2 separate regions of the Homo sapiens genome follow, and region 1 is linked to region 2. The links come from fine-mapping of genetic effects on gene expression. A gene starts in region 2. The other region holds a variant in brackets. All regions are shown on one strand. Distances are from middle to middle.

Region 1 (8,267 bases), 71 kb before region 2:
TCAGCTAGCCCTTCCCATGCCCGCAGCTGTGACAATCCACGCTCGCCTCTTTCTAACCTGCAGGCAGGGGCCCTGGCTTTCCCGCGGCCTGCCTCGCCCCTGGCTTCCTCCCTTGCTCCTGCCCTCAGTGTTCAGTCTCAGAACCGTCCTGGGCACAGAGTGGCATCCCGAGGAACGCAAAGGAGAGGCAGAGCCAGAAAGAGCAACTAACAAGCAGAGAGGGGGCAGGCGAGCACAGAGGCGCAGCTCATGCGGAACAGGGCAGGGCAGGGCAGGGAGCGGAGCGCCCTTTGGGGGACCAGCAAGAAGGGGCAGAGGAAACTCGGCCAGGACCTGGTCGCTTAAAGGCAATGTACAGAGGAGGGCAACTGCTTCTGCCACAGGGGCTGTGTGAGGCCCCCCAGGGGGCGCTGGTGTGGACAGGAGGCCTGCGGGAGGGGACACAGGCTGGCCTGGAAGCCCCGCTGGGTGAAGCTGAGGGACTGTTGGGGGAGGGCATGGGAAGCCTGGCACAGATGTCCTGGGTTTGCGCCCTGCTCTGCTGCAGGGCCGTGAGCAGGTTCCCTCTCTCCCTGCCCCAAGGCAAGGCAGGCAGGCTGAATTACAGGCCCACAGCTGCTCTGTGCAGGGGCCCTCAGGGACGGTGGCTGCCTCAAAGAGACCGACAAACTGAACAGCTGTGGAAGGAGATGCCCAGAAGGGTCTGAAACACCCCAGGACCCCTCTCAGCCACCCTAGTGTGGAGGAAATGCTGCCTCATGTCTGCTGAGTTAATGAGTACTGGGGACCAAAGATTCCCTCAGAACCCCCTGGAAAACTCTAGGACTGCTGCAGCTCAGCAGTGCCACTGAGCCCAGGGCAGGGAAACCAAGCCCCAGGTCATGCTGGCTCTGGATATCTGTGGCTCCCAGCATGGCCAATGGGCAGAAAGGAGTATTTTAAATCCACCACCAGGAAGGAAAGGTTTGTCCAGGAGAAGGCACAAGATGGACATGGACTCTGCATCTGCTGGACTGAATCTTGATTTTCTAAGCTAATGGGGCAGAGTGGAAGGCCTCCCTGTCTCCAGCCTAAGTTTCCCCCTAAGTAAATGATACGTAGACTCTGATTTCTCAGGGCCCCTCCAGCTCAAACGGTCGAAGGTTTCAGCTTCTTACGGAGCCCCACAAGGGTCAGGATGATGGGTTTTGACCCTTCTGCATCCCTGGGACCCAGCACGGGGCCTGGCACGTAGGTTGGCTCCAGCTCCGTGGATAAGGCTGAGTGGGTCACGAATTGGAGCTCCAATGGCTTTCAAGGCCATTCCCTGCCTGGGCTTCATCCCCCACATTCCCATGACTGTCCCTGCCTCCACACTGGGGTTTGGTGACATCCACATGGAATTGCATCCCTGGTGCCCTGGACATAGGTGTGGACCTGACTGCCCAAAAAAGGCTGGCCCAGCCTTGGCTGAAATCTCTACATATGGATTCAGAAGGTAACAGGAGCAGCACAGCCCCAGAACGCACTGCCCGAGGAGGAAGGCTCTCGGAAGAGGGCCTGCGGGGGATACAGCCAGGCGCCTCCCTTCTCCAGACTCGGCCTATCCGACTGGCGTGAGTCCTGTGGTTTTCATCACATTGCACTGTGGGAAAGGCCCAGGGCCCTGGCATATGGATGTGAATTGTCTGTCGGTCAAACGCTCTGGCCAGGAGCTCTGCTCTGAAACCCAGGCATGGCTCCACTGCTAAGACCAGCAAGAATTTGAAAAAGCAGAAGGCAGCCCTGCCTGCTGGCCAGGCCCAGGTAGGCAGGCTCCCGCTCTGCATGGGGAGTCCAGCGCTATTTATACCTGGACGAGTAATACTCCTCCTCCAGCTCGTAGAGGTCAATGGAGATCTCGTCTCGCAGCGTGATGAGCTTCCGGTCGCACTCCTCCTGCAGTGTGCGCAGCTGCTGGTTGCGCTGGTCAATGGCCTCGTTCACGGAGGGGAAGTCATTGAGGATCAGGAACTGCTTGAGGTCGGACACCAGCTTCATCAGGGACTCGCCGGCTCGGACCTGTGGCCATCAGAACCAGGGCGGGCACAGGGTGAGGGGGGACAGCGGCCTTGCCTACAAGTAGCTGATGCTGGGCAAGGGATGGCCTCTCTAGGAGCCTCAGCTTCCTCATCTGCAAAGTGGGACTCTACCCCTGACCTCCACAGGTTCATGTGTGAGAATTAAGTGAGAAAACTGGGATGTCAGTTCTGCAGGGCAGGCCCTCCCCTCTCGTCAGCCTCTGGCTTCCACTCCTGCAGGACTGGCCTCCAGTCCAATTATGCAGGTGTACATTCTGCTCATGAAAAACTCAAACCCCACAGATAAAACTGCGATCCCATTTTGCCTCCTGCCCCGGGGTAGGATTAACATGGCTGCCAGCTGGGCAGAGCTCCTGTGGGACCTTTTTCCATGCATTTTGAGCCCTGGACGTGCACCTGCGGAATTATCTGCTTGCTGTGTTTCTCCTGTGATCCGAAGGAATCCAATGGCGCCTACAGTTCCATTCGGCTGTTTGTCTTTTCACTCACAACTGACCTTAGGAACTCCTGAGTTAGCAGGAAGGGCTACCCTCTTTCTGGCCACTGCACGGCTACAGGACGGGCATGGGTGGCTCTCTGCCCAGCCCTCCTCCAAGTGCCCCACGTGAGGACAGTCTCCTGAGAAATGATTTGCCCCCACCTCATTCTTTAAAGCTGCCGAGTGGTGAAACCAAAGCATCTCTACATTTGCCTCCTTCTGCTCCTTCTCGGGGGAAGAAGACCAGACCAGCCCCAGAGCCCCCTCCACTCCACCCAGGAAACCTGAGGGGACTGATGCTCTTGGAGCCCAGGCCGTGCCCTCCACCCTGGCCACTCACGATGTTGGCGGCTCGCACATGCATCTCGTAATTGTCCTGTTCACCCTGAGTGGCCCGTGACACCTGCGTCTCGTCCTCAATCTGGGGGAAAACAAGAAAACCTAGAAATCAACCCAGCCAAGGCATCCCCACCCCTGGCCCGGCCCAGCCCAGCTTACGGTAACTGTCATCTACCCAGGATGTCCACACTGGCCACAACCTGTCTGTGGTGCCATCTACAGACCTAAGCGCTGTCAGCCAGACCTCTGACAAGGTTCAATTCCACCCTCTCTTGTTCTGGCCATGGGAGACAACATGCACCTTTGCTCAAGACAAATAGAGGCAACCCACGCTGCTTGCTGTACTAGGTGCAGGGATGGGGGCTTATCTTGGCCCGGTCTTTTTGGGCTGTGGGAGCCCTGTTTGGTAGGAACCGTTGTCACTTGCTTGGCATTTGGTAAACTGTTGGATGAGTGAAGGGATGATTTAAGTTTTTTTTCGCGACCATTTCCTGATCACTTCCCAGGTGCCAGGCTGTGTCATGCACTTGACCACCATTAACCCATGCCAGTTTCACAGAAGCCTGGCCTGCCACCCCTGGTGTATAGGTGGCCAAGCGAGGCTGGATGGGGCTTCCCGGCAGGCCTTGCAAAGGCTCAGTTCGGGGTGGGTGTCAGGTACCCTCAGTGGTTAAGACCCAGACTTCGTGGGTTCAAATCCTGGCTCAGCCAGTTGTGAGCTGAGTGACCTTGGGCAAGTCACTAAGTCTCCTGGGCCTGGGTTTCCTCCTGAAATGAAGAGGACAACAGTGCCCACCTCACAGAGTCCTCATGAAGATTCAGCAGAACA[G/A]GCACAGATAACCTCACAACGTGGCTTGATACATGGCAAGCACTAAGTACATGCTAGCTTCCATCCTCATCATCATCGCTTATGGAGCCTGCCAGGTCTGCAGCAGCCAGGAGGGATCCAGCCCAATCTGATGCAGCTGTAGCTGCAGTGGTCAGCAGGCTTGCAGGCCCCAGTGCTGACCGCTCCACCTGCCTGGAGGCCCCCCCCCACTTCTCCCCTCAGTCTGCTTTTCTCCTGCTCATTGGCTGTGTGCCAGGCCCCGAGGTAACTGTTTTACACAGATAAACTCACCAGTCATCACAAGGACCCCACCATGCAGGAGAAACTGAGGCACTAAAAAGTGAAATCTCCATCCAAATCCATACTGTTAGTAAGGGCTGGACGTGCCATTATTTGGTTTGCTTATCTACTGACCAGCTCCCTGTGCACTGGGTGCTTCCTGCCTAGAACACTATTCACTCGCGCTGCTCAGCCCCTGGCCTCTCCTGTCTCCACCCCTTCTCAGACTCTGCTCCCCTTGGTGGGCCACCCCACCCCCACCTTGGCGGTCTTGATGATCTCGGTGAAGTTGTCCATGATGGACTTAATGTCGTCCTTCAGCCGCTTGTTGTAGGACTGCAGCAGCGTCTCCTTGCTCTGGGGCAGGGCTCTCTGCTGGGCCATGGCCGAGCCTCAAGCAGCGCAGCGGGGAGACCTGGGACCTAGAGTGCAGCACAGACCTCTGAGTGCAGGCAGAGTCTACCCCAGCCACCCTCTATGCCCCAACCTTAGCAGAACACGCAGATTTCTGGGGATTCCCTTTCTGCCAAATAAAGTCAATCACTGAAACACAGATGAACTCATTCCATCAGCAGACACCGCAGGGGGTGCCAGGACTGGCCCCGCCTTTGCCAGAGCAAGCTCATCCTGGAACTCCTGGCCAGCCCTCCAAGCCCTGTCCAGGGCTCCAGTCCAGACTTCACGTCCAGGCCCACAGCGTGTCCCAGGGAGCCCTGCAAACTCAACACCAGCTCCCCGTCCCCAGCCCTTGGCTTAACTTCTTAGCCCGCCGCCACCTTCGCCACGCCCTCCCATCCGAAGAGTCCTTCCAATTCGACCCCTCTGCACCGCCTACATCCACGCTTTCCTTCCACTCCCACTCAGGCTGCCCCGCTCCAGACCTCATCCCTGCACTGCGGGCCCCGCTCCCTCCAGTCTCTGCGCGGCAGGGAAGAGGTCCTAAAAAGTGGTCATTCCAACCGGGCGCGGTGGCTCACGCCTGTAATCCCAGCACTTTGGGAGGCCGAGGCAGGGATCACCTGAGGTCAGGAGTTTGAGACTAGCCTGACCAACATGGTGAAACCCCAACTCTACTAAAAATACAAAAATTAGCCGGGCGTGATGGCAGGCGCCTGTAATCCCAGCTACTCGGGAGGCTGAGGCAGGAGAATCGCTTGAACCCGGGAAGCACAGGTCGCAGTGAGCCGAGATCGCGCCACTGCACTCCAGCCTGGGCGACAGGGGGAGACTACGTCTCCAAAAGAAAAAAAAAAGGGGGGTAATTCCACTCCCTCGCTTAACATCCCTCATGGTTCCCCGGTGCGCCGGGACAAGGGGCTCAAGTTCCGCGCCGCGCCTCTCGGCCTCTGCCCTCCAGCCGCACTGGACGGCCTCGGCGCTGGAGTTGCCTGGCCCTGGGGCCGGGCCTTTGCGCGCGGTGCTCAGGGAGGGCCCGGGGCCCCCTAGGTTCGGAGTCTGGCGCACGACCGAGCGGACTCCTGGACGCACTCGCATTGTTTGTGCCCATTTTTGGCGGGGTGTGGGAAATAAGTCACACGCAGGAAAGGGGATCTCCGACCCCAGCGCCTACGCACCCACCCACCCCCACTCCCGCCCACACACCCACCCCCCCTCCATCCCCACCCCCCACCACACCCTCATACCCGCCCCAGCGCCCGCACACCAGACGCCGCGTCCGCCGGGTCGGCCTAGGGCGGGGTGGTCAAGTGCCTCTGCGACCCGCACTTTCCCGCGTCTCTCCCACGGCCTGGCCCTCCCGCCGCAGTCTCTCTTCCCCGCCGCGCCGCGGTCCGAAAACCTAGTCAGCCGCCGCAGCCTCTCGGCCCCGCCTCGATTTTTAGCTTTATAGGAATGCTGTTGCTTTAAATCCGAAATCCCGTGCCGGTATCAACTCTCGCGATCTCCGAGGCCGCATACATATTACCCACAATTCCCTTTCCTTTCTCTCTCCTCCCGCCGCCCAAGATGGTGAGTGAGCTGTAGTTCCGTGGCACTATAGCCAGGTTCCGGCTGTATCCGCTGCCATCCTCCTCCAGGCGCGGCCTCGGAGGGCCTCCTGCTCCTCCTGGCGCTAGGAGAGCCCCACTCGGTGTGGCACGGAGACACCGAGGTGGATTAGAGCCCCACTTGGTGTGGCACGGAGACATTGAGATGGACTAGAGCCCCGGGCGGCCGAGAGCGGAATGCGTTGTTCCCGGTGTCGCAGGGCTGGGTGTCGCAGGCCTGGAGCACCGCAGTGCGGGGCTCGGAGCCCTAGCGTCTCTCGGGCTTGCTGGGGGCCGCTCCAGAGGCCTTGTGAGCGACGAGTTCTGAGCCCGCCCCTGTTGCTTCTAGAGCCTGTGGGGCCGCGACTCAGAGGAGTCATGAGTCCGGGGTGTCTCCTGGGTGGGCGACGCGAAGAGAGCGTGGTCTCGGGCTTAGCCTTGCTCTGGCCACTCGGGGTTCCCGGGGCTGCATGCTTGTGCGGCTGAATGTGAGATGCTCCTGTCGAGGGGTGGTGCTGGGGGGTTGCAGAAAGCTGCTCGCCAGCTTAGTTCAGGCAGGTGCTGTCAGCGTCCCTTGTTTTGGAGGAGCCAGCCTGAGCCCTACCCCCGACGAAGCGAGTGGAGGCGGCGGTTTAACTGACGTTTTCTTTCTGCCCAGCCGAAAGGAAAGAAGGCCAAGGGAAAGAAGGTGGCTCCGGCCCCAGCTGTCGTGAAGAAGCAGGAGGCTAAGAAAGTGGTGAATCCCCTGTTTGAGAAAAGGCCTAAGAATTTTGGCATTGGTAAGTAACAAACGGCAGAATGAAAACGGTCTATGTTTTTCTCAAGGGAAGGTGGTAATTGGGTTGTGTTGTATCTTGTAGGTTTTAGTGGGTGTAAAGTGGTCGCAGTCCTTAATTTGTGTCTCTTAGAGACGGGGGCAATGATACATGCTTCTTGCTTTCATTGGGAGTTGCTGAGCGAGCATTCAGCTCAATATGGTAGTGGCCTTGAATTCAGCTTAGCCATCTGGAAACAAGTACAGTAGCAGTGTCGCAGCGAGGTACTAGGACTGCAATTCTGCTGTACTTCGTGGCACCTTGGCTTCTTGTTAGATGAGGAAAAGCATCGTGCTCTTTGTTCTCAGGTGTTTGTGTGCAGATGATGTAAAAGAATATTTGCTATCTGAGAGATGGTGATGACATTTTAAACCACCAAGATCGCTGATGCACCAACACCCTTCCTAGTGGCCCCAGACATGAACTTGACATGGAATTTGAGCCTCACTCGGTGTCACCCTTTACTTCTCAGGACAGGACATCCAGCCCAAAAGAGACCTCACCCGCTTTGTGAAATGGCCCCGCTATATCAGGTTGCAGCGGCAGAGAGCCATCCTCTATAAGCGGCTGAAAGTGCCTCCTGCGATTAACCAGTTCACCCAGGCCCTGGACCGCCAAACAGGTGAGGTTCTGTGGCGTGGAAAGGAGTTTCTCAGGCAAGGATTCCTTATTTCATCCAGAACATGAGGGGGATGGTCTTAGGCTTCTTGAACTGCAGTTGTCATTAAATTATAGTCATATAGCAGGACCGCAGTCCAGCATTTGTTATTAAGTGTTAAGTGACAAGGATTAGAACCTTGACTCCAAGCCTAAACTGAAGAGTGTTTTTCCAGCTACTCAGCTGCTTAAGCTGGCCCACAAGTACAGACCAGAGACAAAGCAAGAGAAGAAGCAGAGACTGTTGGCCCGGGCCGAGAAGAAGGCTGCTGGCAAAGGGGACGTCCCAACGAAGAGACCACCTGTCCTTCGAGCAGGTGAGTAGGCCCCACCTTAGGGTGAACACTGGGGGCGGGCTGTTGCAGTGATGTAAAATTTCTTGGCCTGAAATTACTGTGAAGAGTAAAACCGAGCTTTTTAACACTGAGTCAGCAGCTGAGCCCAGCAGCTTCTTGTGACTAGAGCAGGCCCTGTGAGTGCTCACAAAGTGGTTGTGTGTTCTAGGAGTTAACACCGTCACCACCTTGGTGGAGAACAAGAAAGCTCAGCTGGTGGTGATTGCACACGACGTGGATCCCATCGAGGTGCGTTTGCCTGTTGACTGCTAACCCAAGGGCTTCTGGCAGTACCAGGAAGAGAGAGTAGACCTAATGCCAAGTCAGTGATGGGACCGAAGTGGGTGAGGGCAGTACTGACACAGATCCAACACATGCGTGGCTCTTGCAATGATGTGAATCTCTCACTGAATTCAACCTTGAAGTGCGAATCCATGAGCTTTTTAACCCTGAGCAATTGTTACAAGCTAACTGAAATTTGCTGCTTTTG
Region 2 (8,272 bases):
TGGGGAATCTGTCTCTTGGGCTAAGGTTAAATGTCATTTCCTTAGAAAAGCCATTCCTGGCCCCACTGAATGGACACGTCCCTCTTGTTCCAGGCGCCCAATACCTTCTCCTCACTAGATTTATCCTGACCACACTTAATCAACAGCTGCAGTTTACAGTCTGTCTACTGCACTTGACAATAAGCCTCAAGAGGGAGGAGCAGGCCCACCTCACTGAACTCTATCCCAGACAGCCTGCCTAGCACAACACAGGGAGGCCCCCAAATGGCTCATTCCTCAGCCATCAGCGACTGTGTCCTGAACACCCAGGCAACATGAAGCCAGCTGTAACTTATGAACACGTCACCTCCAGCTGAACCATTCAGAGAAGGCCACTGACTCCCGGTCCACCCCACGTGGGTGGCCAGCACAGGGTTTATTCTTTTCACTTGTTTTTTTGAGAGTCTTGCTCCGTCACCCAGGCTGGAGGCAGTAGTGCAATCACAGCTCACTGCAGCCTCAACCTCCTGGGATCAAGTGATCCTCCCACCTTGGCCTCCCAAGGAGCTGGGATCACAGGCAACAGCCACCACACCTGGCTCCATCACAGGGTTGAAGTAATCACCAGGCACTGAGCCAAGAGTGCCAACCTCACAATCTCCTTATGATGCCACCATGACTACCACAAGGCACAGAGGACGTCAGAAACTTGCCCCAAACCACCCAACTGGCGAGAAGCAGGGACAGGCCTCATACTTGGGTCTTTCTGGCTTCAGCACGCTTTCCTTCCACACACGTGTACTGGCACCCACTAAATGCTGAGCTCTGCTCAACGCTCGGAAGAAGCAGGCCCTGCCTTATCATGCGCACACTCTAGGGGAAAACAAGTAACAGCGAGTAAACAAAGGAACAGACGACATCAGGGTAAAGTGATGGAGAGACTGCGGTGAGGCCACCAGCCTCCATAAGGAGACAGGCCTTGGTGAAGTCGCTGTGCCTCGGTTCTCAGTGGTGAGGTGGCCCATACTTACTCGGTGGGTGGGGCTGGGGCTGCCTCCTTAGCTTTCCGCTTCTTATGCTCGATGTCCCCTCGTTCTGGAACAATATCACCATTTGTCCTTTCCTTGGTTCCTTTCTTATTGTGCTCTGTTCCACTGGCCTTGGTGCGAGGTACTGGCGCCCTCCTGTCCATCTTGGAACCTGAAGGAACAGAGCCCCTGCTGGCCTCCTGGTCTTTTCCTGCCGGCATCTCCTCTCCCTTCACTTGAGGCGAGGTCTCTTTTTTGTTTTGCTGGATAATTTTGGGCTTCTTTTTGGAACCCATCTGAGAGATGACAAGAGGCTTTTCTGGGGCCTGAGATTTTTGTTTCAGCAGCCACTGGGACCCAAAATAAAATACATGCTGCATTTGAATTTGGAAATTACACACAGCAGATTGAAAAAACTTACGTGTGTATGTATATACACACATATACACCAAACACATCTATACAATTCCCATCCGCATCACTGAAATTCATTTTCAAACGGTTTGGAAAAAGCTCTTTTTCATTCTCATGGGTCACTTGTGGTGAAATGCTGTTTCTTTGCTTATCTTATTATAATGCATTTTGCACCTGCTCCTTCATGCATACAAAATGTCAAACTCATTCTACACCTTGGGTACCTGTTGAGTGGCTGGACACCACAGACCACTTCCCTTTTCAGCTTATCTAGAAAGAATTTTGGAGTTAACTTCCCTCACAGCTTGGGCCAACATCCTGCTACACAGAAATCGCTTTTTTTTTTTTTACAAGATTCCCTGGTTTGCTACTGCTGTGAAGATCTCAGGAAGGTGGGGGGTGTCATAAATGAAAAGAAAAGCTTCTGTCAAACTGGAGTGGCTGAAGAACTGCTAGCAGCCACACACCTTGGCTGTCACCCAAGCAGAGGCTCCTGTAGTCTTAGAGCCCAGCTTCCTCCCTGTGTTCAAATCCCCAGTGGGAGTGGGCGCCACCACAGTGCGATGATGAGGCGGGTGCTACTTACCTGTTCTGTGATAGGTAAAGAACTGAAGGGCTGACTTTCTTGGATGAATTAGAAAACACTCCAAAGTTTCCCTATAGCACACATCCCTTCCATTCACTTATTTTGCTTTTCTTTCTTGGGAGAAGGAAGAAGAGTTGGTGTTCAAGAAATCCCACAGAACCCTGGGGCTGCCCACGGGAATTTGACTGGTCCTGTGTGTTAAGACAGGAATGTCTGCACTGAGATACTGTGCAGAGTATTAGGAGGTTCAAGAAGCGCTCGGGGAGGCTGAGGTGGGAGGATTGCTTGAGGTCAGGAGTTGAAGACCAGCCTGGGCAACAAAGTGAAACCCCATCTGTATTAGTTCATTGTGCACTGCTATAAAGGAATACCTGTGTTTGGTAATTTATAAAGAAAAAACGTTTATGTAGCTCATGGTTTTGCAGGTTGTACAAGAAGCATGGTGCCAGCATCTGCTTCTGGTGAGGCCGAAGGAAGCTTCCCATCATGGTGTAAGGTGAAGGGGGAGCAGGTGTGTTGCGTGGTGAGAGAGCAAGCAAAAAAGGTGCTAGGCTCTTTTTAAACAACCAGCTCTCAAATGAACCAGCAGAGTGAGAACTTACTCGTTACTGAGGGGAGGGCACCAAGTCATTCATGAGGGATCTACCCCCATGACCCAATACCTCCTATGGGCCCCATCTCCACCACTGGGGATCACATTTCTTTTTTAAAAAAACTACTTTTTACTTTTATTTAGAGATGGAATCTCACCATGTTGCCCAGGCTGGACTTGAACTCCTGAGCTCAAGTGATCCTCCTGCCTGGGCCTCCCAAAGTGCTGGGATTACACGTGTGGGCTACTCGGGAGGCTGAGGCAGGAGAATCACTGGAGCCCAGGCAGCAGTGAGCTATGATCCTAACAGGAGGTAGCTCCAAGGGAGCTCCAAGGGATGTGGTAAGAATGTATGAGTGACGCACGTGGAAGAGTGTCTAGGAGAGAGCAGGCAACCTCTACAGAAGTGCAGGTCACTAGGGAGACAGCAGGTACAACACAGCCTTAAAAGCATGGACTCCAGAGTCAGCCACCTGGTTCCCAGCCGCAATCTTAGATGATCTATTTAAACTTTTCCAGCCTATTTCCTCATCTGTACAATAGCGATGATGGAAGTGTCCACCTCACAGTCTTATTGTGGGGATTGCAACACGCATGGCATAGAGCACATGGCAGAGTGCACATTTTTAGGAGCTCAATTAGTATTTACTTCAAGACCGTAAGTGTCGCTAGAACCCCATCACATGTCTGCTATCTGCTTTTCACTTCTACACAGGAATCTTCTTTCTCCCTGTCTTGCTACACAGACCAGTGTGTTCTTTCGTTGTTGTTGTTTGAGATGGAGTCTCGCTCTGTCGCCCAGGCTGGAGTGCAGTGGCGCGATTTCGGCTTACTACTGCCTCTGCCTCCCGGGTTCAAGCGATTCTTCTGCCTCAGGCTCCCCGAGTAGCTGCGACTACCGGCGCGCGCCATCACGCCCGGCTAATATTTTTTGTACTTTTTTAGTAGACACGGGGTTTCACCATGTTGGCCGGGCTGGTCTTGAACTCTTGACCTCAGGGGATCTGCCCGCCTCGGCCTCCCAAAGTGCTGGGATCACAGGCGTGAGGCCCCGCGCCCGGCCTGGTTTCGGGATTTTAAGCTAAATTTCTCTTTGTAAAATCCATTCTAGTTAGTTCATTATGCAAAAGGTACAAGGGTTTATCTTTGCTTTTTTGTACTTGAAATAATTCTTTCATCAATTTCTTTCAAGCAAACAAGTTCGAGACCTCCCTCAACAGGCCACCTTTCTTGTGAAAAGCTGTTTACAAGATTTCGATTCAAATCTGCCTTTACAGGTCTTTTGGGGCTACCCAAGTCTTTCCCTCCGTCGCGTTCTGCGGGAATGAGCTGCGCAGCGCTCCGCCCGGGCCCCCTCAAGCCTCACCTCTTGCAGCGCCTTCCAGTTTTGAGAAAAGTCTTCTGGTGCCTTTGGAGGTCGCACCACAGCACCGGGGCCGCTTGCTGGCTTCTTGCTTACTTCCCGCGCCTTGCTTTTCCAAAACCTTTTTTTCTTCTTGTTTTTCTTCCGAGTGAGCGTCTTGACAGGACCCGGCTTAGCCACGGGGCTGCTCGGGGCGCGCTTGGAGGCGGGGACCTTCGCCTTCCCCATCCTGCTGCCGTCCAGCGCCTGGGCCGGCGGCCACCCGAGACCCCGGCCTCCCCGGGCCCGGCGCCCTGGCAGCACAAGCGCCTGCCCAGGCCAGGCCGAAACACACCCACCGCAGGGACCCCGTCCAGGAAAAGACTCCGGAAGAGACCCCGCACGCGTTGCGCATACCTCAGCACGCACGCTCCAGTCCCCGGAAGCGCTCGTCTCTCCACAACCGGCTGGAAACCGGATCCCTGCCTCTGGTTCCGCGCAGCCTGGGCGGTTCACCCGCACGGGACTTGGGCCGCCGCCTTAGCCAGCGGCATCCGGGGTCATCGACCTCGAGTTTGACTGGGGCAAGCCGAGGACCTCCCCAAGATCCGGGATGGGGATGAGAGATGCGAACGCCGGAAGGGAACTGGGGGGCCGCTGTGTGTGTAGCACCTGGTAGGGCAGCTGAGCTGGGGGCACTGGGCGGTGGGGCTAGTGAGAGCCGGGCTAGGTCGCTCGCCTGCGTCCTGGACTCTCGAGCCTTTCCCGCCTTGGGCTGCTCCTTGCTCAGCCTCACAGCGGCTCATCTTCCACGTACAGTGGGGAAACTGAGGCCCAGGCACCGGGAGGAGTTCCTGCCAGTTCACTCTGTAGCAGGACGAGCCGCAGACAAGAACCCCTCAGACACCGAATTGTAGAAGGAAAGGGCTTTATTTAGTGGGGAGCATCGGCAGACTCACGTCTCCAAAAACCGAGCTCTCTGAGTGAGCAATTCCTGTCCCTTTTAAGGGCTTACAACCCTAAGGGGGTCTGTGTGAGAGGGTCGTGATCGATTGAGCAAGCAGGGGGTACGTGACTGGGGGCTGCATGCACCGGTAATCAGAACGCAACAGAACAGGACAGGGATTTTCACAATGCTTTTCCATACAATGTCTGAAATCTATAGATAACATAACCGGTTAGGTCAAGGATTGATCTTTAACCAGGCCCAGGGCGCGGCGCCGGGCTGTCTGCCTGTGGATTTTATTTCTGCCTTTTAGTTTTTACTTCTTTATTTGGAAGCAGAAATTGGGCATAAGACAATATGAGGGGTGGTCTCCTCCCTTACTTCTGCCGCCTGGGTTCAAGCGATTCTCCTGCCTCAGCCTCCTGAGTAGCTGGGACTATAGGTGCACGCCACCACTCTCTGCCAATTTTTGTATTTTTAGTAGACCTGGGGTTTCGCCACGTTGGCCAGGCTGTCTTGAACTCCTGACCTCCAGTGATCCATCCGCCTCGGCCTCCCAAAGCGCTGGGATTACAGGTGTGAGCCACCGTGCCCGGCCGGGAGTGGGTAGATTTGATGTGCGTGTGTAACAGGCAGAGGTTGATGGAGTAACAGGGAAGTGAGGCTCCTAGGATTTTGGTCTGAGCAATTGGGTGTGGCCATTTATCATCTCAATAAATGTCTGCGGGGAGCAGGGTGAAGTATGGGGGTGGAGCCATGAGCTCCTTTTCACACTTGCTGAGTTTGAACGGGCCGTCAGTCACCAAGGAGAGACGTCTAATCAGCAGCAGGATATAAGATTCCTAAGCTTAGGGAAGGGTCAGTGCTGGAGATGTAATTTGGAAATCGTCAGCACATAATTAGTGTTGAAACATGAACCTGGGTTAGTTCATCCAAAGAGAGAGTACCAATATAGGGAGTGAAGGGTTAAGACCAGATAGCAGGTGCTGGGGGCTCTCCAGGGGCGAAGCAGCAGAGGAGGCTGAGGGGGAGCAGTCAGTGCAGTGGGAGGAGAAGCGGATGTGAGTGGCATCAGAGAATCCAGGGGGAGAATAAACCACATCAGATGCTGCTGAGAGGCTGAGAAGGACGAGGACAGAGAGATGGGAACCAGATATGGCACTGAGATTGTCAGCAAGTCCACCGAAAAGGGTTTTCTTTTTTTTTGTTTGTTTTGAGACGGAGTCTTGCTCTGCTGCCCAGGCTGGAGTGCAGTGGCGTGATATCGGCTCACCACAATCTCCACCTCCCGGGTTCAAGCGATTCTCCTGCCTCAGCCTCCTGGGTAGCTGGAACTACAGGTGCACGCCACCATGCCCAGCTAATTTTTTTTTTTTTTTTGAGACGAAGTTATGCTCTTGTCGCCCAGGCTGGAGTGCAATGGCGCAATCTCGGCTCACCGCAACCTCCACCTCCCGGGTTCAAGTGATTCTTCTGCCTCAGCCTCCCGAGTAGCTGGGATTACAGGCATGTGCCACCACGCCCGGCTAATTTTGTACTTTTAGTAGAGATGGGGTTTCTCCATGTTGGCCAGGCTGGTATGGATCTCCAGACATCAGGTGATCCTCTCGCCTCAGCCTCCCAAAGTGTTGGGATTACAGGCGTGAGCCACCGCACCTAGCCTAATTTTTGTATTTTTGAAAAGAGACGGGGTTTCACTATGCTGGCCAGGCTGATCTCGAACTCCTGACCTCATGATCCGCGTGCCTCGTGATCCACCTGCCTCGGCCTCCCAAAGTGCTGGGATTAAAGGCGTGAGCCACCACACCTGGCCCAGGTTTTCTTTTTAAAAAAGGAAAAAAACTTTGTTCCAGCAGTTTGTAAACCAGGGCAATGCAGCCTTCTGTACAAAGGTGCATTCCAGGGAACAAAGAGAACAAAGAAAGAGGTCGTCTTTTGTAGAGAACTTCCTGCCCAGGTTCCCACTTTGGTCCACTTATGCAAATGAGGAAGGCACACTTGCTTAGTTCTGATTGGTTAATACTTGCTGAGTTCAGATTGGTCGATGCAGGTCACAGTCGATGGGTTGATTCTGGCGGCATAAACAGGAACAGATAGCTGTGAAACCATCCCAGAGTTAAGTGAGAGTGGGGGCTTTCCAGGAACGCAGAATGTGTGTGTGACCCTAGTCAGCAAATGGCTGCTAGGTCCTACTTTGAATTTAGGCCCAGTTAGTAACTTGGGATCCATCAAGAAGGATTGGCTCTTTCAGGGTTCACAAAGTTATTGGTGACCTTTTAAAGATCAATTTCAATGGTATGTGGGAATTGAAGGCAAGGAAGTGGAGATAGCCACTGAAAATAATGTTTCTAAGTTCTTAAAGACAGCCAGAAACAGGGCTATGGCAGGAGGACAGTGTGGGTCAAGGGAAGGTTGTTGATTGTAATCAAGAGACACCAGAGTGTCTGGGCTTGGTGGCTCATGCCTGTAATCCCAGCACTTTGGGAGGCCGAGGCAGTCAGCTCACCTGAGGTCAGGAGTTTGAGACCAGCTTGGCCAACATGGCGAAACCCCACCTCTACTAAAAATACAAAAACTAGCCAGGCGTGATGGCGGGTGCCTGTAATCCCAGCCACAAGGGAGGCTGAGGCAGGAGAATCACTTGAACCTGGGTGGCGGAGGTTGCAGTGAGCCGAGATCGTGCCACTGCACTCCAGCCTGGGTGACACAGCAAGACTCTGTCTCAAAAAACAAACAAAAACCAAAAAGAGACAGGAGAGTCATTCATGCTGATGGAGTGAGCCAGGTACCAGGATCTCGATATCTAAGCATGCCCCCTTCTCCAACAGCCTCCTTACCTTCCTGCATGAAAGCACACCCTTCCCTCCAGTCCCCCATTCCTTTATTCTGCTGTATTTTTCTCCATAACACTTACCACCTTTGAACATACTACATATACAACATGTGTCTGTCTAGCAACTTTGCTGTCTGGCTCTCTTCCCTAGAATTTAAGCTGTGAGAGGCCGAGGCTGCTGTCTGCCTGGCTTGGGGCTGCTTTCCTGGTGTCTAGCACAGAGCCTGGCCTGTTTCAGGGGCTCAGTGAAACATTTGTTGGCTGAAGGAATGAATGAATGGCTCTAGCAGAGGGGCAGAAACTAACGATGCAGGAGGAGAGAGCTGGGAAGGGATCCAGAGCCAGGGCCTGGCAGGAAGTGTAGGTGTGTCCTCCCTGATCGCAGAGGAGGAGAGAGGCTGCACTTTGAGGGGTGGAAAGACAAGGTGAATCCCCCTGCTGGTCATCAGCTTGTGCGGCTCTGTGGGTGTAAAAGAGTGGTTTGGAGCATGTGAAGTGAGTCTTCCAGGAGATGAAGGGGATTGCCAGGCCGTTTGTGATGATGCTGAGATC

The links.
Region 1: its variant is fine-mapped to the expression of REXO4 in whole blood (INTERVAL, PIP 0.92).

The regions. Positions count from the first base shown.
Region 1 is chr9:133,342,294-133,350,560 of GRCh38, forward strand. It overlaps MED22 (mediator complex subunit 22), which reads right to left and starts at 5,838. Exons shown (of 5, transcript NM_133640.5): 1 at 5,629-5,838; 2 at 4,247-4,407; 3 at 2,879-2,959; 4 at 1,832-2,040. The coding sequence starts at 4,369. RPL7A (ribosomal protein L7a) reads left to right here and starts at 5,925. Exons shown (of 8, transcript NM_000972.3): 1 at 5,925-5,953; 2 at 6,629-6,749; 3 at 7,258-7,407; 4 at 7,619-7,759; 5 at 7,947-8,026. The coding sequence starts at 5,951. SNORD24 (small nucleolar RNA, C/D box 24) reads left to right here and starts at 7,103; the gene lies at 7,103-7,177. It overlaps SNORD36B (small nucleolar RNA, C/D box 36B), which reads left to right and starts at 7,801; the gene lies at 7,801-7,871. It also overlaps SNORD36A. RefSeq lists enhancers at 1-247, 3,411-3,914, 3,915-4,416, 5,721-6,015, 5,877-6,346. The variant G/A (reference allele first, on the strand shown) is at 3,707.
Region 2 is chr9:133,413,655-133,421,926 of GRCh38, forward strand. REXO4 (REX4 homolog, 3'-5' exonuclease) reads right to left here and starts at 4,356. Exons shown (of 8, transcript NM_020385.4): 1 at 3,966-4,356; 2 at 1,011-1,357. The coding sequence starts at 4,190. It also overlaps a transcript of ADAMTS13 not described here. RefSeq lists a silencer at 4,101-4,340 and enhancers at 4,451-4,670, 7,868-8,007, 8,238-8,272.